Regions from separate parts of the Homo sapiens genome. Here region 1 is linked to region 2. The links come from fine-mapping of genetic effects on gene expression. A gene starts in region 2. The other region holds a variant in brackets. All regions are shown on one strand. Distances are between the middles of the regions.

Region 1 (12,152 bases), 110 kb after region 2:
CCCTCCAGCATGGGTGAAAGAGTGCAACTCTGTCTCAATAAATAAATAAATAAATAAATAAATAAATAAATAAGCAAGCATCTCTAAATGTTTGAGTGCCAACATGATACTCAAAGGAGATGCACATTGTAGCATTTTTGATTTTTGGATTTAGAAGGCTGAACAGGTAAGTATAAAACAAATATTCTAAAATTTGAAAAAATTCTAAATCCAAAATACTCCTGGTCCCAAGCATTTTAAATAAGGGATGCTCAACCTGTAATATCAAATGTTGATGAGGATGTGGAGCAACTAGAACTCTCATAGATTGCTGGTGGGACTGTAAATTGATACACTACTTTAAAAACTGGGAATAGCTACTAATCCTGAGTGTAAGACCCTATGACAACCAAAAGATATGTATATTCACCGAAAGACATCTATAAACATGTTCACTGCAGAATAATTTTAATGGCTCAAAACTGGGAGCAACCTGTCTACAGCAGATACATAAATTGTAGTATTTCCATCCAAAGAAATACTGTGCAACAGTAAAAATGAACAAACTACAACTACATGCAGTGACAAGGATGAATCTCACAAACATAATATGGACTAAGAGAAGCAGGAAACAAAAGATCACTGAACACATGATTCCACTTATGGAAAAATAATAAACAGGCAAAACTAAGTTATGGTATTAAAAGTGGTAGACATGGCAGGGCACAGTGGCTCACGCCTGTAATCCCAGCACTTTGGGAGGCTGAGGCAAGTGGATCACCTGAGGTCAGGAGTTCGAGACCAGTCTGATCAACGTGGTGAAACCCCATCTCTACTAAAAATACAAAAATTAGCTGGGCATGGTGGCAGGCACCTGTAAGCCCAGCTACTCAGGAGGCTGAGACAGGAGAATCGCTTGAACCCAGGAGGTGGGGATTGCAGTGAGCCAAGATTGTGCCATTGCACTCTAGCCTGGGTGACAAGAGTGAAACTCTGTCTCAAAAAAAAAGAAAAAAAAAAAGTGGTAGACTTCTTTTCCAAGAAGATGGAGTAGACACAATTTTCTCTATCACTTCTGCTAAGTACAACTAAAAACCCTAGACAATAATATATAAAGTAAACATAGAAGACTCTGAAAGATAGACAAAAAAAGGCAGACCAGCTATGGACCTTGGTACCCAAGGAACAACACAAGTATGAGTGGAGCTGAAGAACCAAGAAATACTGATGGGTGAAGATAGGTGCAAACAAAAAGCCCTAACAAGTGCCTGCTTGCTATCTAATGAACCAGGAAAGGGGCAGTCTAGAAAGACACAGAACTTTAGATAATAACTTCGACTGCAGCCAAATACCACAGAAAAAATGATCATAACCCTATTCCCACTCCTGCCCACACCATCAAAGGCTGAGCAGGGAGCCTACAATTCTGCCCTCACCAAGCTATAATGGGGAACCCCCAACCCCTCAACTAAGGTGGGATCAGAGAAGATAAAGGAGCAAGGACTTTCATCCCTGCTAGGCAGTAATGAGGCCACAGTATCAGTGGAGATTACATGGGAAGCCTGGACTGCCAACCCACCTGTTGGTAACAAGGCACCCTTACCTTTCCCCACTGGGGTGATGTCAGGAGTTACAGTAGAGAATCAGGACTTTCACCACTGGCCAGCAGTAAGGAGGTCCACCCCTCACTCTCAATGGGTGTCACTGAAGGCCATGTGAGGAGGCCTACTGGGGAGCTGAAATGCCCATCTCCACTTCACAGTAATGAAAAGTCTTTCACCTTCAGGTATCCAAAGAGGCTGAGTGAGGAACTTGGACTTCTACCTCCAGCTGGCAGTAATAAAGCAGCATCCTCCCTTCTCTTGCCAGAGCAGTTTCAGAAAAAGTCAGCTAAAGCAGAAGGTCTAAATAAGATCCACAGTCTCATAAAATAATACCCAAAACATCTTGCTTTCAATAAAAAATCATTCGTCACACCAAGAACCAGGAAGATCTCAAACTGAATGGAGAAAGGCAATCAATGGATGCCAACATTGAGATGACAGGAATGACAACCATTTTGAAAACAACCATCATTTGGAAATAATAGACACTGGGGACTCCAAAAGTGGGGAGAATGGGAGGGGGATGAGGGCTGAAAAGTTACCTGTTGTGTACAATGTTCAATATTTGGGTGATGGGTACAGCAGAAGCCCAATCCCCACAACTACACAATATACCCATGTAACAAACATGCATTGTACCCCCTGAATTTAAAATATTTTTAAAAAGCCATCCTAAAAATGCTTAGATAGGCAATTATAAACATGCTTGAAACAAAACAAAAAAAACAGAAAGTCTCAGCAAAGAAATGGAAGAAAAAATGGAAAACTTATAACTGGAAAATACAACCACAAAAATAAATCTTAATGGATACACTTAATAAAGCAGAATAAAGGGGACAGAGGGATTAATGAGTGAATTGGGATACAGAACAATAGGAATTACACAATCTGAACAGAGAGAAAATAAAGTGAAAGAGCCTTAAGGACCTATGGGACTGTAACTAAAGATCTAATGTTCATGTCATCATAGTCCTGGAAGGTGAGGAGAAAAAAAGGGAGTGAAAAAGTTGTCAAAGAAGTAAAGGCTAAAAACTTCTCAAATTGGCAAAAGACATAAACCTACAGATTCCAGAAGCTGAGCAATCCCAACAGGATAAAACTAAAACAAAATGCCCACACCAAAACTCATCAGTCAAACTTCTAAAAACTAAAGGCAAGGAAAAAAATTTTGAAAGCAGAGAGAAACAACTTACCAATGGGAGAAAAACAATTGAAATGATAGCAGATTTCTGAGAAACCATGGACACTGGAAGTGGCACAATTTTTTTTAAGTGCTAAAAGAAAAGAATTGTCAATGCAGAATGCTATATCCAGAAAAAAAGACTGTCCAAAAAAACAGAAAACTACTAATATCCCTGGTAAATCTAGATACAAGAACCCTTAAGAAAATATTAGAAAAGAGAATTTAGCAACATATAAAAAGAATTATACAACATGACAAAGTGTGGTTGATTCCAAAAATACAAGGCTGATGCAATATTTCAAAGTCAGTCAATTCAATCTACCATGTTAATAAGCTAAAAAAGAAAAATTACTTCAGCTTACCAATCAATGCAGAAAAACACTTGATAAAATAAACATTTGAAAAAGTCTCAGAAAATAGGTTCTGAGGTAAAAGTCTCAGAAAACTAAGAACAGAGGGGAATGTTCTCAATTTGATAAAGATCACCTACGGAAACCCATGGGTAACACTGCACTTAATGGTGAAAGACTGAATGCTTTTTCTCTAAGATAGGGAACAAGGCAAGACTGTCTGTTCTCATCATTCTTATGCAACACAATGCTGGAAGTTCTCACCAGTGCAATAGGAAATAAAAGAAAACAAAAGACATACAGATCAAAAACAAAGAAACTGTCCCTATTTGCAGTTAACATGACTAGGTAGAAAATCCCAAGAAACCTATAAATAAACTTCTAGAACTAATAAGTGAGTTCAGCAAGTTCACAGGATACAAGATAAGCATACAATAATTAATTGTATTTCTGTATACTAGCAATGAACACATGGACACCAAAATTATAATACCATTTACAGCTGCTTAAAAAAGAAACACTTGGGTATAAATTTAAAAAATGTGTACAAGGCCTTATGCTGAAAACCATAAAATGCTGATGAAAGAAATCAAAGAGCTAAATAAATGGATCCATGTTTATGAATTTCAATTCTCCTCAAATTGATATACAGGTTTAACACAACTCCTATCAAAATCTCAGCAACATATTTTTGTAGATATAGACAAGATTTTAAAATTTATACAGAAAAGGAAAGAAACGAATAGCTAAAGCAGTTTTGAAAAAGATCATATAGCTGTGCATTAAGACCGTGTGGTATTAGCAGAAGGACAGACACATAGATCAATGTAACAGAATACAGAACCCAGAACAAATCCACCCAAATATGCCCAACTGTTTTTTAACAAAGATGCAAAAAAAATTCAATGGTGGAAAGGTAACCTTTCAACAAATGGTGCTGAGGTAATTAGACATCCATGGGCAAAAATAATGAAACTCGGCCAGGCGCAGTGGCTCACGCCTGTAATCCCAGCACTTTGGTGGCCGAGGTGGACGGATCACCTGAGGTCAGGAGTTCGAGACCATCCTGACCAACATGGAGAAACCCCATCTCTACTAAAAATACAAAATTAGCTGGGCATGGTGTCATGTGCCTGTAATCCCAGCTACTCGGGAGGCTGAGGCAGGAGAATCACTTGAACCTGGGAGGCGGAGGTTGCAGTGAGCCGAGACAGAGCCATTGCACTCCAGCCTGGGCAATAAGAGTGAAACTCTGTCTGAAAAAAAAATAAATAAATAACCTCAAACTAAGTCTTATACCTTATACAAATATTAACTCAAAATGGATCATTAACTATACAATTTGAAACTATAAAACATTTAGAAAAAAAAAAAAAGAAGAAGAAAATCTTTAGCCTCTAGTGCTAGGCAGAGTTTTTAGACTTGACACCGATACCATGATCCATAAAAGGAAAAACTAATGTTAGACTTCATTAAAATTTAAAACTTTTGCTCTTTAAAAGAC[T/C]CTGCAAAGAGGATGAAAACACAAGCTACAGACTGTGAGAAAATACTTGGAAACCACAAATCCAGCGAAGGATTAGTTTCTAGAATATGTAAAGAATTCTCCAAACTCAACAAACAATCCAATTAGAAAATGGACAAAAAACGTGAAGGGACATTTCACTGAAGAGGATAGACAGGATATATAAATGCATAGATACAAATGAAAAGATGTTCAACATCATTAATGATTAGGGAAATGTAAATTAAAACCATGATGCTATATCACTACACGTCTATAAGAATGGTTAAAATAAAAATAGGGATAACACTGAATTCTGATAAGGAGGCACAACTACCAAATTACTCATATACTGTGGGTGGGGATTTAAAATGGTACACCACTCTAGAAAGCAGTTTAGCAGTTTCTAATAAAACTAAATACATGATTACCATAAAACCCAGTAATTACACTTCTGGGAATTTATTCCAGATAAATGAAAACTTATTTTCACACAGAAACCCATGCATAAATGTTTATAGCAGCTTTCTTCATAATAGCCAAAAAGTGGAGACAACCCAAAAGCCCTTCAAAGGATGGAAGGACTAATTAAACAAATTGTACTACAGCTTTACTATGGGATATTATGCAGCAATAAAAAGGAGCAAACGATTGATACATGCAATAAACTGGATAAATTTCCAGATAATTATAGAATGAAAAAATCCTATCTCAAAACATTACATACTGTATGATTCTATTCATATAACATTCTTGAAATGACAACATCATTGAAATAGAGATAGACAGGTGATTGCCAGGAATTCACTAGAGAGTGGGGACAGGAGGGAAGTAGAGGTGGCTATACAAGGGCAACATGAGGGACCTTGGTGGCGACAGAGAGAAATGTTCTGTATCTTGACTGCCTCAATGTCAATGGTGCTATTATGCTATAGTTTTGCAAGATGTTATCACTGGGGAAAAGTCAGGGGGTACAGGATACATGGGACATTGCTCTATTATTTCTAACAACTACATGTGAATCCACAATGATCTCAAAATAAAGTTTAAAAGAAGTTAGGATAGGGGTTACCCTTAAGGGAGATAGTGACTAGAAGGAATTTTGGGGTGCTGATAATGTATTTTCTTATCTAGGGCTTTATTTCATGAAGTGTTGACTTTGTAAAAACTCACTGAACTACAGTATTCTACAACAAAAGAACTTAATATGAAGAAAAAAAAAGATGAAAGTAGGAGAGAAAAAATGAGACAGATATAGCATCTCCCAGGAAGTCAAACATCTAGAAAATAATAACTCCAAGAAGGAAGAAAAGAAAAAAATTAAGGGAAGAAAACTTTAAAATTTCAAGAAAATGCCTCAAAACTGAAAGATAAGAGTTGTCTGAGTGAAATGACCCACCTAGTACCTAACACAATGAATAAAAATGGACACAAGCCAAAGCACATCATCGTTTCAGAACACTGGGACAAACGAATTACCTTACAAACTTTCAGAGTATAAAATATTTCACATAATAAGCATCAGGAATGAGAATGGCTTCAGATATCTCAACAACATCATCACAATCTATATGTAGCCAAATTATTACTTGAGTTTATGGGTGAAATAAAGACATTTTACACATGCAATTTCTCACAAAATTTATCTCTTATGTACCCTTTCTCAGGTTGTGTTCCACCAGAACAAAAGGATAAATCAAGCGAAAGACAGACAAGGGATACAGGAAATAAGAGATCTAACATGGGAGAGAAGCAACAGGAATACAGGGATGACAGAACTGGAGATCCCAGGAATGACAACTTTGAAGGGCAACCAGTCTAGTGGGAATAGGACTGAAGGTTTCAGGAGAGACCGTCAGAAAAATGACACTGGTAGAATACCAATACACCTGAATGTCCTAAGAGGAAATTTAGATGGCTGGTGAAACATTCAAGGATGAATAACTGATAAATACAGAGAAAGTTAAATAAACAGAACACTACAAGAAAACAAAGAGTTGCACAGAAAAAGAAAAAATGCAGTTTACTACATGTCTCTGTTATGATTACACAGTCATACAAATACAAACATGAATACTGAACTAACCAAAATTGCCTTATAGCTACATTGGGAAGTCAGAGAAATGAGAAAGTTAGGCTTTCTCATTAGACAGTCAGGAGCAGAAGAGAGAGTTAACTTGGTTTCTTCTATAGTGGGAAGACACTAGATATTATCTAGTGTCTTTAAATAAAATTAAAGTCAAGAAATACAGATACAAGAATTTTATTTAAAGACATACAGGTGATAATCCTACTATTTTGGGAGGCCAAGGCAAGAGGATCAATTAAAGTCAGGAGTTCTGGGCAACATAGTGAGATCCCATCTTTAAAAAAAATTTTTTTTTTAAGTTAGCCAGGTATGGTGGTACATGCTTACAGTCCCAGCTACTTGGGATGCTGAGGTGCCCAGGACAGTGAGCTATGATCATACCACTGCACTCAGCCTGGGTGACAGGGTGAGAACTGTCTCAAATAAATAAATAGGTGAATATCAAAATAATTGCAGAAAAAGTAGTTGCCTCTGGGAAGAGAAATAAAAAGAGCACAGAAGTCTGTTTTTTTGTTTTGGTTTGTAACCTTGTAAACATGTTCATTTTTTTAACTTCATACATCCATAACTCTCACTTTAAAAATAAAAACTGAGAAAGAAATATGGAGTCATGTGGATTTTGTCTTTACAAACGACATTAAAGCCAACTACTAACACCCTTCTATCACTGACTAAACATTTTTCAGAGTTGTACAGAATGTCCTTCCACATCAATTCTAATCAGGGGCCTTAGAGTGAACTTTAATTAATTATTCTACATAAATCATCTGCTGAATCTTCCCCAGGTAGATCAGAGAAGGACACAAAGTCCTCTTTAATGGGCATAATTTCCTGAATTGTCCAAGTGATTATGAAGAACTGATGCCCATATGCTAATTCAAAAATGGAAATATCTTACATTAAGATATTGATGTAAACCTTGATGAGTGACTTTCTCCCAAAATATTATTTCCTCTCCACCATATGCAAATGACTTTTGAGTATCATAAGGTTACACAAGGTTTCTCTGGTTACATAAGTCCAGATGTTAAGTAGTTCTCACAGTATCAACAAATACAAAGTCGTTATGGAAATGTTTCTGTAATATGACATTCAGTATCCCATATATAAATGTCATAGACAGTAACTTTTATATGAATTTCAAATCTTAAAAGACAAACAAAACTGTTAAACTCAGGTCATTATTTTTTTTTACTCAATATTTTCAGGTCATATTTAGATTTTGGTAAAAAGGAACCAAAACATGGAGAAATCACATTATAAACACAGTTATGAAATAAAGCATAATAAATAAAGTGTAATCACAGGATCAGGGACAAAAAGAAACCAAAAACAAGTATATCCCAATGTAGGGCATCTTTGGCTGAAGTGGATTATATTTAATTTGTCTTAAGGAATGACAAAACAAGTACAAAGAGTAGTAAAAATATTTATATGCTGGATGAGACAATCTGTTTATAAAGTGAAAGGAGATTTTGTTTATTGAGAGGTTGATATGGGCTAAATGTCTACAGCCCCTCCAAAATTAATAAGTTGAAGCCCTAAACCCCAATATGATGGTATTTGGAGGTAGCCCCGTTTGGAGGTAATTAGATTGAGAAGAGGTCATGAGATAGGACCTTTTTGATGGGATTAATGCCCTTATAAGAGGAGGCAACTCTCTCTCTATCCACATAGCAAGAAGGTGGCTATCTAGTAGCCAGGAAGAGGGCCCTCAACAGGAACAGAGTTTACTTGCACCTTGATGTTGGATTTCTCAGTCTCCAGAACTGTGAGAAATAAACTGTGGTTCAAGCAACCCTGTCTATATATGGTTGCTATATATATATGCTATATATGGTTGCTATATATTTTGTTATAGCAGCCTGAGCAAACTAAGACAGTGGGCAATGAACATGAATCAATTCAGTTAATATTTTGTTTTTAATGTCTGAGTCTTAATGCTTTTTTAAAAAAAGAAACTTGAAAATATAGAGTTAAGAAGACATTTCAAATTATATACAGAATTAACTTTATGATCTTTTCTGGGAAATATTCTCTAGTGCAGGTTTGCAGTTCATCCTAATCAGATAAGGAAGGCTTTGTTTACTTTTTAGGAAAGCAGAAGTCTTCTCACCTGGCACAGTCTAATGATAGTAATCAATACAACTATTGTGAAAATATAACACAGACTTCTAAAACCTGGAAAGCTATGCTACCAGTACCTACACTGAGTCATTCAAATAGCAGGTATTTCTGAATTATTGATGAGAGGCAATGAAATCATTCTTATTAAAACTGATAGCTTTCTTCATTATGTATTTGAATTAAAACTGTTCAAACATATATTGAGTTATCCGCAAATATATGAGAGTATGAAAATGGATTCAACTTTTGAAGAAAGAAACCCTGAGATCGAATACATTATTTGGAATAATTGCCAAAGGTTAGATTTACAAACATGATAAGAATGTGTGCTATAACATAGCAGTGACATAATTATCAGTGATGGAGAGGAAATAGTCCCTGGATACCACAGAAGGGACACTCTTCCTTGTGCCATGGCCATCATAACTCAGTGTTGCCTAGTGATGAGGGCTGAAGCTGCGAAGCAGGGAAATCAACTTTTCAAACCCTTGCAGCCAGCTCTGTCTTGTCAACTGTTATTGGCCAACATTCTCAATGGCTTTGGGAAATGTGAGTCCCAGAGCTGGACTCTAACATACTGCTGCAATTATGACCAGTATAGACACAGGGAAACTACTGTAAAAGAGCGTTAGAATCTAGGTATTCACACACCGCACTCAAACATTCAGTTCAACCCCCAGCTTCTTCCAGGATAGAGCTTTTTCCAGAGACACAGTGTGCGAGGTCAATTCCCATAGATTTTTTTTTTCCATCAGGATTGCTTTAGCATCTGCTAGACATTTAGCCAATGTCATGAAAAAAATATATAAGGTTAGTTTTATAACAGTCACACAGGCTACAAGGGCACTGATCTGTGCAAAGATGAATGACTATTTTGGAATCTTCCTCTTCCTTTCAGGGTATTGTGACATGGTTCCTTTATGGCAAAGCCAAATGATGAAAGAAACAAAACTGGTCTCAGTCCTGTCAGCCCAGTTTCCAGCCTGAGCCCTCCAGGCACTCAGCACTGCCCACGGGCTCCCCAGAGCTGCTACTAGCTCCCCAGAGCTGCTACTAGCAGCATTCCACTGGGATTGAAACTCCTCCCAGAAACTAGAACCTGGCACCCTTGTCATTCTTTTGTTTTGTTTTGTTTTTTTAGATAGGGGCTCCTTCTGCCACCCAGGCTGGAGCGCAGTGGCACAATCACAGCTCACTGCAGCCTTGACCTCCTGGGCTCAAGTGATCCTCCCACCTCAACCTCCCAAGTAGCTGGGACTACAGGCACACACCACCACTTTCAGCTATTCTTTTCAGTTGTTTGCAGAGACAGGGTCTCACTATGTTGCCCAGGCTGGTCTTGAACTCCTGGGCTCAAGTGATCCATTTGCCTCAGCCTCCTAAAGTACTGGAATTACAGGTGTGGGCCACTGTGCCCAACCACCTTGTCATTCTTGGTGGGCCTTTCCAAGGCTCCTAGTAAAACCTGACTGCTAGATCATAAGCAAGCTGATTCACAACCTTGGTTGCCCCATCTTGACAACATATTTGCACTTCAACAGGGAATCAGTGGATTATACTATCATATTATTACCAACTACAATACAATAACACTTAAGTAACACTTGCTATGAACCTAGCATGTATTAACTCATTTAATACTCACAACAGTTCTCTGGGGTGGAAATGATTCCTTTCCCAGTTTTACCAATGAGGAAACTGTGGCACAGAGAAGGCAAATAACCAGCCCAAAGTCACATAGGGAATGAGTAGCAGTGCTGCTCTTAGCAGGTACTGACTCTCAATGCACTGTGCAGCTATGAGACAGGGATCCCAAAAGTTAGGTCTTAGGCCTCAAAGACTTGCTTTATCATTGACAAGCAATGATAAACCACATCTCTCTCTCTCTCACATACACACACACACACACACACACACACACACACACACCACTAAAGGGTTAAATGAAAAGTCAGAATAATAATGGAAGAAAAGCCACATAGCCCTATATAATTTATTAACTAAAAGATATTAGGGACAATAGGCATGCTTCTGGAGTTCCAAGTAGGGTGTCCATACTTCAGACAGGGGTTGTCAAGAAAACGAGGGGCTTAAATTGAACTCTGAAAGATGGGCAGGATTCACAGGCAAAGATGAGTGGGAAAACTATTCCAGGGTAGAGGAAAGAAAAGGCAGCAGAGGATCCGTAAAAGATTTATCCCAAGACTAAAGGGCACATGAGGCCACCCAGACAGCAACAGATGGCACAGGGCCTTGAATACCAGGCTGAGGGACGACAGAACACAAAATACAATGGAATTATACTGAAAAAAAGACATTCATTTGAACAACCAAAAAAACCCTACAGCTATAGATCGAGCACCCACTAGTAGGTAGGACACATGCTGGAGGCCACACAGTCCCTGTCATGACACCCAGAGGCGAGAAGAAGACGGGGGCACACACAATCACAACACCTTATGCTAAATGTTCAAACAGGAGCAAGCACAGGTGATGTACACAGAGGGTCTGTGGTGTGGGGCCTCGAGCCAATCTTAAAGGATGAATAGATTGGCAGGGTTTTGCTACTGTGACCTTGCTAAGGATTTCCCAACATTTGAACTTTTATTTTGGTGTGCTGATCTTACCGCTAATGATCCAGTACTGAAGTCCTGTGATGGTATCATTTCAGAACAAACAGTACTTTATGAATTCACTATATCTAATGGGACCTTTCATAACATCTGGAAATAGAATACACTTGAAACATTTTCCTCACTCCTTCCTCTACTTCTAGAGATTGTTCTCACATCTACTGTAGGATTTATAGGTAATTTTATTGCTATCTTTTTACAGATATCTCGTTTGCCCAACAAGACTGTATACCCCTCGAGGGAGGAATCTAGAACATAACATATTGCCCTTTACCCCTGTAAGCTCTCAATACTGTTTATTTTGACAAGCACCTGATGACAATAAACATATAAATTTTTATTAAAGTTTAATGTGATCAAAAATTCATTTTAGGAAGTAGAGTCAAAAGAAGTCCCAGTTGCATCCCCCTGGCTTTGATAAATCAGTGCCTCTTTAAGCCTCCTTTTCCATACAAACTTAAGTCAATTAACTCCCAGAAGGATTCTAGAGCTTAAATGAAATAAAGTATGAGAAAGCATTCTGTTAATCTAAAAGCAACATATGAACATTTGGTGTTGCTGGTAGTTGTAGTTTTATTCCAGATATTTCATTAAAACTCTGGGTCTTATTTTGCAATTATGCCAAAAGCACTTTTCCCAGAATTATTTGGCACCACCCTTGAACTAGGCTAGTATTTCATCCATCT
Region 2 (12,152 bases):
AATGGGGAGAAGAGAGTCTCTTCAATAAAATGTGCTGGGAAAAATGGATAACCATATGCAGAAGGATGAAGCTAACCTCTATATCTTACCATATAGAAACATCAACTCAAGATGAATTAAAGGCTTAAATCTAAGACCTGAAACTATGAAACTACTAGAAGAAAACGTTTCAGGACATTGATTTGGGCAAAGATTTTTTGGTAAGACCACAAAAGTACAGGGAACCAAAGAAAAAATAGGCAAACAGAATTACATCGAGCTAACAAGCTTCTGCATAGCAAAGGAAATACTCAACAAACGGAAGAGACAACCCATAGAATGAGAGAAAATATTTGCAAACTACTTGTCTGACCGAGATTAATAACCAGAATATATCAGGAACTCAAACAATTGAATAGCAAAAAACCCCAAATAATCCAATTTTAAAATAAGCAAAAGATCTGAATAGACATTTCTCAAAAGAAGACATACAAATAGCTAACAGGTATACGAAAAAATGTTCAACATCCAAAATAATCAGGAAAGTACAAATCAAAATCACAATGAGGTATCTCACTTCAGTTTTTTTTTTAATCAAAAAGACAGGGAATAACATATGCTGGTAAGGATGTGGAGAAAGGGGAATACTTGTGCACTGTTGGTGGAAATGTAAATTAGCACAGCCTCTATGGGAACTATATGGAAGTTTCTCAAAACTAGACCTACCATATGATCCAGAAATTCCACTACTGGGTATATATCCAAAAGAAAGGAAATTAGTATATCAAAGAGATATTTGTATTCTCATGTTTACTGAAGCACTATTCACAATAGACAAAACATGGAATCAACCCAAGTGTCCATCAATGAGATGAATGGATTAAAAAATGTGGCATATATACACAATGGAATATTATTCAGCCATAAAAAAAATGAAATCCTATCATTTGCAGCAACATGGATGGAACTGGAGGTCACTATGCTAAGTGAAATAAGCCAAGCACAGAAAAACAAATATCACATGTTCTCATTTATATGTGGGAGCTAAAAAAAAACTGGATCTTATGAAGATAAAAAGTAGGTTGGTGGTTACCAGAGGTAAGGGGATGGTGGGAGGGGTTGAAGAGAGATTGCCTTTTTTTCCCTGTTTTAGTTTGGAATGCTAGAGTGGATTAGTCACTTTAGACCATCATGAGACAGGTTAGCTTTACCCTACTGTTGATGTGTTGTTGCCATGGTAATCCTGCTCAGTATAAAAGGAACCACAGTTTCAGACATTTGTTGTATGTGCTTGGCTGAGGAGCCAATGGGGTGAAGTTTCCTAGGTGCAGCCCATGATACTATTTTTCCCTCCTAGGCCTCTGAGCCTGTGATGGGAGGGGCTGCTGAGAAGGTCTCCGACATGCCCTGGAGACATTTTCCCCATAGTTTTGTTGATTAACATTCAGCTCCTTGTGACTTATGCAAACTTCTGCAGCTGGGTTGAATTTCTCTCCAGAAAATGGGTTTTCCTTTTCTATTGCATCGTCAGGCTGCAAATTTTCCAAACTTTCATGCTCTGCTTCCTCTTAAATGCTTTGCTGCTTAGAAATTTCTTCCACCAGATACCCTAAATCATCTCTCAAGTTCAAAGTTCCACAGATCCCATAATTTATAAAGGAAAGAGGTTTAATTGACTCACAGTTCTGCATGGCTGGGGAGGCCTCAGGAAACTTACAATCATGGTGGAAGGGGAAGCAAACATGTCCTTCTTCACAAGGCAGCAGGAGAGAAGTGCTGAGTGAAGGGGAAAAGCCCCTTATAAAACCGTCAGATTTCATGAGAACTCACTCACTAGCATAAGAATAACCCCCATGATTCAGTTACCTCCCACTGGGTCCCTCCCACGATGTGTGGGGATTATGGGAACTACAATTCAAATGAGATTTGGGTGGCGAGACAGCCAAACCATATCGACCTATATTCAAATTCACCGGTTCTTTCCTCAGCTATGTCCAGTCTGCTGATAAGCCCATTGAAAGAATTCTTCATTTCTGATACGGTGTTTTTAATTTCTAGCCTTTCCATTTCACTTTTTAAGTAATTTTCCTCTTTCTGCTGAAATTCTCTATATATATTCATGCATATTGTTCACCTTTTCCACTAGCTTTATAAGCATATTAATTCTAGCCCAATATATGGGTCATTTCTGAATCTGGTTCTGTTTTACCTCTTGATTTTTTCTCCTCTCTGCTTTTTTGGGTGTCTTTTAATTTTTGATCAAATGATGGATATCACATGTAGGAGAATAGTAACAACTGAGGTAAATAATATTAATGTCCAGAAATAAACATGCCTCTTCTGTCCAGTCAATAATGTGGGTAGTTGAGTCAATCTAGTCAGGAGTTGTGCTGAATTTGGGTTTTGTTGTTGTTATCCTTGCCTTCACTCTGTACCACAGGCTTCATTCAGATTCCTCTAGCAGGGGGTTACTATTGCATTGTTTTAGTGTGGAACCTAGAGTGCTGGGGAGTTTTTCTCAGTGTCCCTCACTCAGCTTTTAGCAGTGTTTGCATGCCTGTGTTACAGAGAGGTCTCTCCCCACTCTTTTTCCTCCTCACTAGTTGACTGGTGTTGTCACTGGTGCTTGGCTTGTAGTGGGGAAAAGGGGTTTTTCACACTCCTGGTCCTGCCTTGGTTTTAGGCAGGCCCTGTGCACCTGAACCTTAGATGTGGGGCTTTCCCAGTATTCCTGACACTTTCCCATTGCAGCCAAATCCTTCCTTTATCTGTGGTGAGTCTTGAGTGAGAGAGGGTTTCCCAGCAGTAGCCAACTTCAATTTTCTATTGGTTCAGGACACAGAGCCCTAGTGTTTCCTGCTCCTGCTGCTCCCCAAAGGGCAGAAGGTTTGTGCTTCTATCTCTTCTCCAGAAGCAGGGGGTCTTTGCCAGGATCCTGTTGGTGGTAAAGCTTCCTGCCCTTCCCCCAGTGGATAAGGTTTTCATACAGAAGAAAAGTTTGGAGAGGTTAAGTGGAATTTCATGATTGTCCCCCAGTGACAGAACTATCACCTCCTAACATTCTTGTTATCTCCGGAAAAATATTTATTGCTTATAGAGAAAAATGTGGTGTTTCAATATAGCTTCTTTACAGATATTTACTAAGGATCTGTGATATAAATAGCACTTTAAATATTTAGTACATTGCTGCCTGCCCTTTTGTTTCTCCACCAGATATATCTGTAGAAAATACATTCATCATTCAACAACCCACCTGTTTATTTTAGCTACTTTCCATAGTGCCATCCAAAATTAAACCAAATCAAAATGAATGTGGTTAGGTACAAAAGCTGTCTTGCAAGAAGCAAGTGCACACCGCACCTGGGAATACAGGAAAGAATTGGATCAGGGCTCTGCTGTTTCTCTGAAGACAGGCTTCACTCAAGTAATGATGGTTTATTTTTAAAAACCATCCCTCTGAAGAGTCCCTTACAAGGAAATTTCTTAACTTTTTAAAAGCCATACATGGTGTACACATGGTGCCAAGTGCTTAAGGGCAGTTGGTTAAACCTTTCTTTGAGGGCAAGGAAAGCCTAGTCCATCCTACTCAGACTTTTAGGAAAAATGAGGCTTATCTATTTTTAACAGGATAATTTCTGTTACTTTGGGTTCTCTAAGATATCTCACCAAAAGACCAGAATTAGAGAAGACTGTCCTAGTTAAGTATGGAATATTGAGTCAAATTAATGGGTTCCAGGTCCTGTGGAGGGAATGTTCTTTAAAATATATGTATATCTCCTAATTATCAGTATTAAGATCATTCAGGTTATATGTTAATTTAAAAATATATCTATTACATTAAGAAACTTTTTTTTAACATAAGGTAATTTTAAGAGAACCTTGTCATGTTGGTGAAGGAACATTTTACGAGCCCCTCTGTACTCTGAAATGCCGTGTCCGAGATTAGACATACAAGTCAGTGTTACTTAAGCGGCCAAATTTCCAATTTGTTATTGCTTGTTACCAAATGAAAGTAAAAAGATAAACAGAAAGGTAAAATAAAGAAACTGGCTTTTATGTATTTTATTCACAAAAAGGGCGTTTGCCGAAGGACCTTCCCATTCACGGGCTGTCACTCACAGGTGCTCGGAGAATTCAGCCTCCAAATCCGCAGGTCACAGGTCAGCCAAGTTTTAAGAAACACTCCGGGTTAGCGACTCTTCCTCTCTGCAACTCCCACCCCTGCGCCGAGGGCAGCGGGACACGGCCGGGCGGTCCCCAGGGGAAGATGAGGCCCTGGACGCCCCGCGTGCGCTGGAGGCCCGGAGGCCAAGGCCGAGGCCGAGGCCGAGGCCGGGAGCATGCCAGCGGGGTCGCGCCACCGAAAGCTCCTCCGGCCTGGGCCCGCCGTGCCCCGAGGCCGCGGGCGGAGGCTGGAGCAACGAGCCCAACTCTCCCTCCGCCCCGGGGAGGCGGGGTCTCCGCCTTTCCCGCGTTCGGGCCTCACCGCCCCCTCCGCCTTCTCTGAGCCCCCGCGCCACTTCCGCTCCTCGCAGCGGAGCCGGTCCCCTAGGGCTCGGGTCGCACGGAGCTGACCCCTAACGAAATGGGGCCGCGCCAAGGGCGGTGGTGGCTGCTGCTCTGGCTGCCGCCCCTGGCCACACTGCCCGTGCGCGGGGAGGCGGCGGCGGCAGCGTTATCAGGTAACCCGGGACCGGCGGCGGCGGCGCGCGCGTGCGTGCTCGCTCCCCGGCTTCGCGGCTGCCCTGAGGGCGCGCTCTTTGGCCCGGGCGGCACCGCGAGGCCCACTGGGGCGGGCGCTCCCTTTTCTCGCTTTGGGGTCTCCCGGGCAGGCCCCGCCCGCCCTTCCTGTCTTACTGGGCTTCCGTAGTCTCTCGCCTGGCAGTTGGACATTTTGTAATTTTAGAATTAGAAGCAACCGCGCGATCCAGTCGCCCAATTCCCTCGTTTTACAGAAGCAACCGAAACTCAGAGAGGTTTTGATTTGCCCAGGGTCACACAGCTTGTCACTGGCACAGCTGACCCTAGTCTCCAGACTTTCAGCACACGGCCTTTTGTACAGTACATCAATGCGTGTTGAAATCCTTGTTATTTCACTATCTCGCATTCCTTTGGTCTCAAGACTAGAGAAGGTAACAGCTTCAGCTTCAGAATCGGAGCGAAAATTCTTCTGCCCCTGACTGTTGTGACCTTGAGCGAGTAAACATAACGGTCCCACGTGAGCGGCAGGTAATGAGGCCTCACAAGGTTCTTGTGGTGTTCGTGTGCACAATGCCTGGCACACAGGAAGCAAGAACTGGTAGCGGCTGCTAGCTGTAGGGGCTCGCCACGGAGTGGGCTTAAGATGCTGGCACACTGGGGAAGGATCTGGGAAGGACACCTGGGGAAGTCAGAAACCTAGAGTTCCAACTCCAGACCTGCCGCTAACTTACCATGAGCTTCACATTTCTGTTTCTTTTTTTTTTTCCCCTCATAAAATCTTTTAAAAGATTTCCTGGGTGCACTGTCTACCAACTTCCCTTCCTTGCTTTGGCTACCCTGGTTTCAAGGGAGGCTGCCAAGTGTATTCTTTTAGCTGGGCATGGCCCTCCCTCCGGTTATACCGCGGTTTTTTATCTAAGGATGAATGAGAGACTGGATGTTGATGAGGTCATTATCAGATTCTGCCACAGCTCCCAACTGAGGGAATCTTGCAGTGAGTTATATGTTGGGGAAGTGTTGGATTCCAGTTTTCATTGAAGAGAAATTTTTTGAGTGTTCAGTATGTGCTAGGCAGTGTTATAAGTGCTTTAACTGCAGTATCTATCATATTTAATACCCATAGAAGCCCTATGCGGGAAAGCACCATTTTATACCCATTTTACAGATGAGAAAACGAAGGTTTGGTAGTAAGAAATACAACAATTTTATGCTGGTGAAAAAATAAAACACAAATCTGTCTAAGCAGGAAGGTTTCTGGGCATGGCAACAGCGAGAAAATTAGAAGTAGCCTTAGACCAGCACCCAGCACCTTGGGTTCTAGACCACTCATTCCTTCAGCCACAACTTGTGGTATAACCTTGGTCCAGGCACAGAGTCTTTATGGACCGTAGTTTTCTCTTGAGTAAAATGAAGATGTTTTTACTGAAGAGTTTCCAGTATTTTCCTCACCTCAGTGAACCTGGTGTTTTTAAAGTTTTTATGTTACCGCATTTAGTATAATAGTAACAGCCTGCTTCTCTGCTTTGTTAATCAAAGACACACATAAATACTTATTGGAGCTTCTGTTCTGCCTGAGACATGCAGGATGCCCACTGACTTGATAAAACTAGTCCACAGCTAAGAAGAATGGCAACTTTTGTAGCCTTAGAGGGATGCCTGCCATTCCGGTAGGCTTTCCAATACGGACTGTGAAGCGCCCAGCATCTGGTAGTGTGCCAGTGACACTGTTGGCAGCCCTGGATTAGACTAGGCTTAAGAACCATAGCTGCTCTTTAAAAGTCTATGGTTTCTTGAGGACCCTGAGAGGAAACAGCTGGTACTTCCTTTAAGCGAGGGGCTTGGATTAGTGATACCTAAGGTGCCTTCCTGTTCTAAAATTTTGTCTTGAATAACACACACTTCAATGGAATGGAGAACATTCAGACCAACCCCAGCTTTCTGTCACTCTATTTGGAGGAAAGTCAGAGACAGTTGACACAGGAGGAGCAGGTAGTTGTCTGACTGAGAGGAGAAACTTCAAGAGTTTCCCATAATTTTCACCCAGTTAGTGAGGTCCCTAGAAACCATGTGTTGTCCTGAGATGAAGTTCAGGCCCTGTCAGTGGCTTTCCAGGCTTAAACTATAACAGTCCATTTGACACCACAGCTTTAAGATTCATCTGTGAAGATTTGAACTTGAAGTTAAAGACCTGAGTGTGCATGAGTATATACTAATTCCAGTTTCATTCTCATATTCTTGGAGAAAGAAAAAGATGAATATTCAGGTTAAAAAAAACTGAGGTTAAGAGAATAGTTACCTTTATCACTTTGGTGCCTCACGTTAACACCTTTGAAAATGTGTATTTACAAAAAACAAATAGTAAGAAAAATCCTGAGTCCATTTGACTTCTCACAAGTTAAGACTTGTTGGTTTTTTGCTTTTTGTGTTTCCTACTCTTCTCCCTCCCCTTCCTTGTCCCCAAAGAAAAACAGTTATAGGGAAAATGGGGAAATTTGTCATATAAGTTAATAAGTGTTTATATTATGATTCCATTCTAGTTTCATCTGAAGATATTTTTTTTCCCCATATGAGGGCCATGTCAGTTTTCAGGAGGAACATTGGTGAGATATTTTTGTGTTGGGAGTTAGGTTCTGCTAAGATTTGAGGTGTTTGTGCTTTTTATTTTTAGCATATTCTGTAAGTAGGTTTAAGTACTGCCTGCTCTTTTCTGATGTTTTGACTGAGGTTTTTTTTTCCGTATATATGACTCAACTCTTTAACTTAAACATATACTTACATTTAGGAAAACTAATAAATGACAAAAGTACTACAAAGGAGATAATTGAGCTTATAATTAGGTGATATGTAGCTGTCCCTTTTTTATACTAGATATGTAATTCTAAAATTAGATTAATTGAATATTCATAAATTGAGTGGTATTTAAAATGAACTAAGGAATCTATCTCATTGGTTAAGGGAACCCTGACTTTCTGAATCCTTTGGTAATGTAAATAATTAATGCCTCCTGTAACATCTTAGAAATTTGGGCACAACTATCCAGAAATATACTGTTCTCTAGAAGTCAGGTTAATTGAAAGCATCAAAGAGCCTGCTGAGGATTGCAAGAAGTTAAGGAAAATGATGCCCTTCCAGGCTTAGAAACCTGTCTTTCCATAGTAAGGATGGCATTCAGGGTTGATCCCACAGATACTCCTCAGTCCTTGAGGGTTGAGGCAAACCTGGGATAGCCTACACTTCCAGATCTTTCTCCCGATCTGATTCAGGCTTGAGGAAGTGATTACCTAGGTTATGGAGCACCTTCCAGGGTACGGACATATTAAATACCTCAGCCTCAAGTAGAAGCAGTAGCTTTCCCTAGGCAGGTATTGTTCCCTTTTGACCAAATGAATGATTATTGTTAGATTTTTAAAAATTCCTAGAAATTCTGTTTCATTTCCTGGATTGCATTGTAAGGGGATTGTTGTTGTTTTTGTTCTAATTTTTAAATGTTTATTTATTTTTGAGACTGAATTATGATCCTGGCCAATTTTTTATTTTTGGTAAAGACAGGGTTTCACCATATTGCCCAGGCTGGTCTCAAATTCCTGGCCTTAAGGGATCCACCTGCCTTGGCCTCCCAAAGTGCTGGGATTACAGGCATGAGCCTCAGCACCTGGCCCGTTGTTGTTTTGATACATTTGAGTTTGCCTACATCTGCTACCGGAGGTTCTATCCTAGTAGAATTAACCAGCAATAACTGGGGCCTCATGAATAAATGAAACCCGCAGACATGCAGGCAGCTTCATAGCCTTCAGTGTCAGGGCATAATCAGCCATAGAGTTCAAATAAGCAGTCAAACTGGCTCTGTTTCCTGTTTCCATTGGACATGATTGAAACCGAGCAGTGAAATGGCTCTAGAAGAAGATTGCTAAAGGGAGGAGAGACCTAAGAAAGATACAGCCTTTATAATCAATCTAAGATTGGAAGATCTGTTCTCTCTAGAGAGAACAGTGGGCCAGCTGTGATAACAGTCTTGTGACAATCACTGTCTTTTGCCTAGTCCAAATAGCCCGTGGCTTAATGAACTGACTTGAAGCTAGGCTTGTGGCTTCTTATGGCTGAATTTATGGTCCCTTAGATATTTAGGAATTCCTGTGTGGGTTGTTTGAGACTCATTCACCTCGGGAGAGAGGTGATAAGAAAAAAGGGCAGCCAGAGGACACCATGAAGCACTGACACTTTGTGGAATCTCATGGATTGTGTAAATTCCACATCAGCTTCACCTCAAAAGCCAGAGGCCACTCTGGAGAATTCGAGGGAAAACACTGCAACATGCTTTTACTAGCGTGTCTATAGGCATGAACAGTCAGGACAACCTCCTTCCTTCTATGCTGTCCTTAATCTGGTTGAAGACTGAGGGGAAATGCAGAACAAGTTCTTTTCCTCTAACTGGCAGATCCCTTACCCAGAATACACTGATGTATCATATATGAGTCAAACAAAAGAAGCTTAATGCCACCTATTCTTTCTGACCTCCTCTATCCAGTGAGGGGCAAGAAGATGATCCCCAGTCCAGAGGATGTTAAGGGTTACAGTACTCAACCCTCTAGCTATGGATGTATTGGCCATGGGGTAGGGCAAGGGGGAAGTGCAGCCTGTGGCTTCCAGACTGGCCCTCATGCTTTGTCAGTTCTGTAAATGGGATGGCAGTGGCACAGGCTGGCAAGGGCATCCTACTACATCAGGTGGTTTCAAGGGAGGGCCAGAGTGCACCTTCTTTTACGGTGCTGACTATTCCTGGCCAGGCTCTTACAAAGATTGGCTGGACTTCCATTGGTAGGCCACACATGCCTAAATAACCCACTAGTCCTCTTGAACCACAAGCTACACACAAAAGATAAATATTTAAGTTCTGGGGGTTACAGTGATAAACATGCAATGTCCCTGACTTCATGGAGAGACAGAGTATAAGCTAATAAATATATATGTAATATGAAGAAAGAATAAAGCAGGTGGAAGTGGTTGGGGTGTGTTTGTTTAGACAGTGGGGTCAAAGAAGGCCTTTCTGAGAAGGGAGTGTTTGATAGAGTATATCAGTGATTGGAAGGGATGAGCTCTGCCAAGATCTGGGAGAAGAAGGTTGCAGCAGACTGAGGAAACTTTATGTGGGGGCTCGCTGGCATCTTGAGGACAGGAAGGCCAGCTGTGGCTGGAGCAGTGGGCTGGGAGGGAAGGTGGAGGAGGGAAGGTCATAGAGGCACTCAGGTCCCTGGAAGGGAGGGGGATTTTATTAATGGTGTAAAAGGAAACCATTGGAGGGTTTTAAGCAGGTAAATGATGGGTTCCCATTCATGTTTTTGTTTGTTTGTGTTTGTTTTTGTTTTGAGACAGAGTCTCACTCTGTCGCCCAGGCTGGAGTGCAGTGGTGTGATCTCAGCTCACTGCAACCTCGCCTCCCAGGTTCAAGCGAAATTACAGGCATGAGCCATTGTACCCGGGCCCAATTCATGTTTTTAAAAAGATCTATTTGCTAATTGAAAAGTGTGTTGTAGGGGAAAACATGGTAGTTGGGGGGCAGCAATTCTGGAAGCAGGGAGACCAGCCAGATAGAAGGCTATTACATCATCCTAGTGCAAGAGGAATGTGGCTTGGGTAAGAGAGAAGCATTTATTCCTATGTTGAAACTGCAGTATACACTATACTTAAATTGCATCATCTTGCTCTTAAGAGCTCCAGGTTTGGAATGATTTAGGAGACAGTCTTAGGATCAAGTGGAAAGAACCTTATTTGAAGAGAGCATTTGATTGCAAAACTCAGGCCCCACCAAAAGGTTATTTCCTCAGACCATTAACAAAAGGGAACTGTTCTATGAGAGTTGATTTAGCCCTTGAAGTAGCAGCACTCACTAGAAGAATTGCAGTGAGGGACCTTTGGAGGCACCCACAAGAAAAGCCCATCTAGCATTGAGCACATGGGTGGTGAAGAAAGACCTGTCTGGAAGTAAACATTATTATCATAGTTTGGGCTGCTGGGTCCGTGTACCTGAGACTTCATGCTCTTCACCTGCCCTGCTGGAATGCACTCCCTTTCCAACGATAGGTAGGAATCACTTTTGTTTGAGGACTCCCAGTATAAAGTTATTAACTCTAGCCATGCTTAGAGACCCCCCCGAGGAGGCTGTGCAAAGGCAGAACATGACAAGGTGAATCCAGAGATCTGATCCCCACACCTCTGCTGCTTACTAACTGGGAGCATTTAATGTGTTCTCATGTCTTCTCATTGCAGTTGCTCAGGATCTTCCAGGTTATATACTACATTCCTTGACATTCTTCTTTTCTATAGGTAGCTGCCAGCCCTTTGATATCCCTGGGACTGCACTTCCCCCTATGCTGCCCTTGGCCAGAAGTCATTTGCATCTCAGATATATTCAAAAATGTGCCTCAGCATTGGTTGCTTTGTGTATTCATAGCCCTGGTTGTGAATTCTTCTTTTGGCTCTTGTGCATGGACACACCATGCAGGAGCATGTTTTTCATTTTTAGTATCCTGTATTTAACAGAGAGCCTGTAGAACAGCAGTCTTCAACCTTTTAGCAACAGGGACCAGTTTCATGGAAGACAGTTTTTCCACAGGATAGGAGTGGGGTTGGGGTGGTTTTGGGATGAAACTGTTCCACCTCAGATCATCAGGCATTAGTTAGATTATCATAACAAGCATGCAACCTAGATCCCTAGGTTGCTCAGTTCACAGTAAGGTTCACGCTCCTATGATAATCTAATGCCACTGCTGATCTGACAGGAGGTGGAGCTCAGGTGGTAATGATCACTCGCCTCGCGCACCGCTCACCTCCTGCAGCCCTGTTCCTAACAGACCATGGACTGGTATTGGTCCTTGGCCCCAGGGTTGGGGACCTTTGCTCTAGAGGTTCCTTCTTGTGGTTTTTACTGGCTTTTCACCTGGATTCTTGTATTTGCATCTTGGACTCTCAAACTCTGCAAATTTCTTGATATATTTAGAAACATATGCATTTTATCATAATGTGAAGAGTAAAGATGACTGATTTGACTGTCACAGTTGAATACGTTGGGTCCTTGTGTAATTTTGCTGCTTCGTGTGGCCACCGGAAAACCCTCCCTTTTATGGAGTTGTGTTCTGGGAGATGGCGAGCATTCCCAGGATCCTTTCCCCAAGTCTGTCTTCACTTTTCTCCAACTTAATGCTAAGGATATTTCAGGCCAGGACCAGGGCCTTGTGTGAGCATATTCAGTATTATTCCCTACATGGATGTGATTGTTTACTAGTAGTTACTGTTTACTCAGTCCTTCCCCAACTTTGGTGTAGCAAGTTGTTCTAGCTTCATTTCAGGTTTTTCAGGAGGAACAACTGACCACACTTTCCTTAAAGGAGTCAGGGGTTGGATGTAAAGCCCATTTCTTTGTGTACCCATAAGTGTTCCTTGTTCCTGTTTCCTAAAGAACAGATGTGGAGGTGACA

Alleles and levels. Positions count from the first base shown, and alleles are read on the strand shown. Sizes are in standard deviations (SD) of each study's normalised expression.
As copies of C replace T in region 1, the expression in subcutaneous fat of the gene that starts at base 4,382 in region 2 goes down (small effect, 0.29 SD a copy in GTEx).

What was found. PIP is the estimated chance that this variant, and not a neighbour inherited with it, causes the effect.
Region 1: its variant is fine-mapped to the expression of NEMP2-DT in subcutaneous fat (GTEx, PIP 0.98).

Annotation. Positions count from the first base shown.
Region 1 is chr2:190,416,576-190,428,727 of GRCh38, reverse strand. All of the region lies in intron 2 of MFSD6 (major facilitator superfamily domain containing 6), which reads right to left. It also overlaps a transcript of NEMP2 not described here. Among named protein-coding and RNA genes, the nearest start is that of MFSD6, 14 kb to the right of the region's middle. The variant T/C (reference allele first, on the strand shown) is at 4,621.
Region 2 is chr2:190,527,068-190,539,219 of GRCh38, reverse strand. It overlaps NEMP2-DT (NEMP2 divergent transcript), which reads right to left and starts at 4,382. Exons shown (of 5, transcript NR_183903.1): 1 at 4,099-4,382. NEMP2 (nuclear envelope integral membrane protein 2) reads left to right here and starts at 4,498. Exons shown (of 9, transcript NM_001142645.2): 1 at 4,498-4,661. The coding sequence starts at 4,565. RefSeq lists a silencer at 4,185-4,834.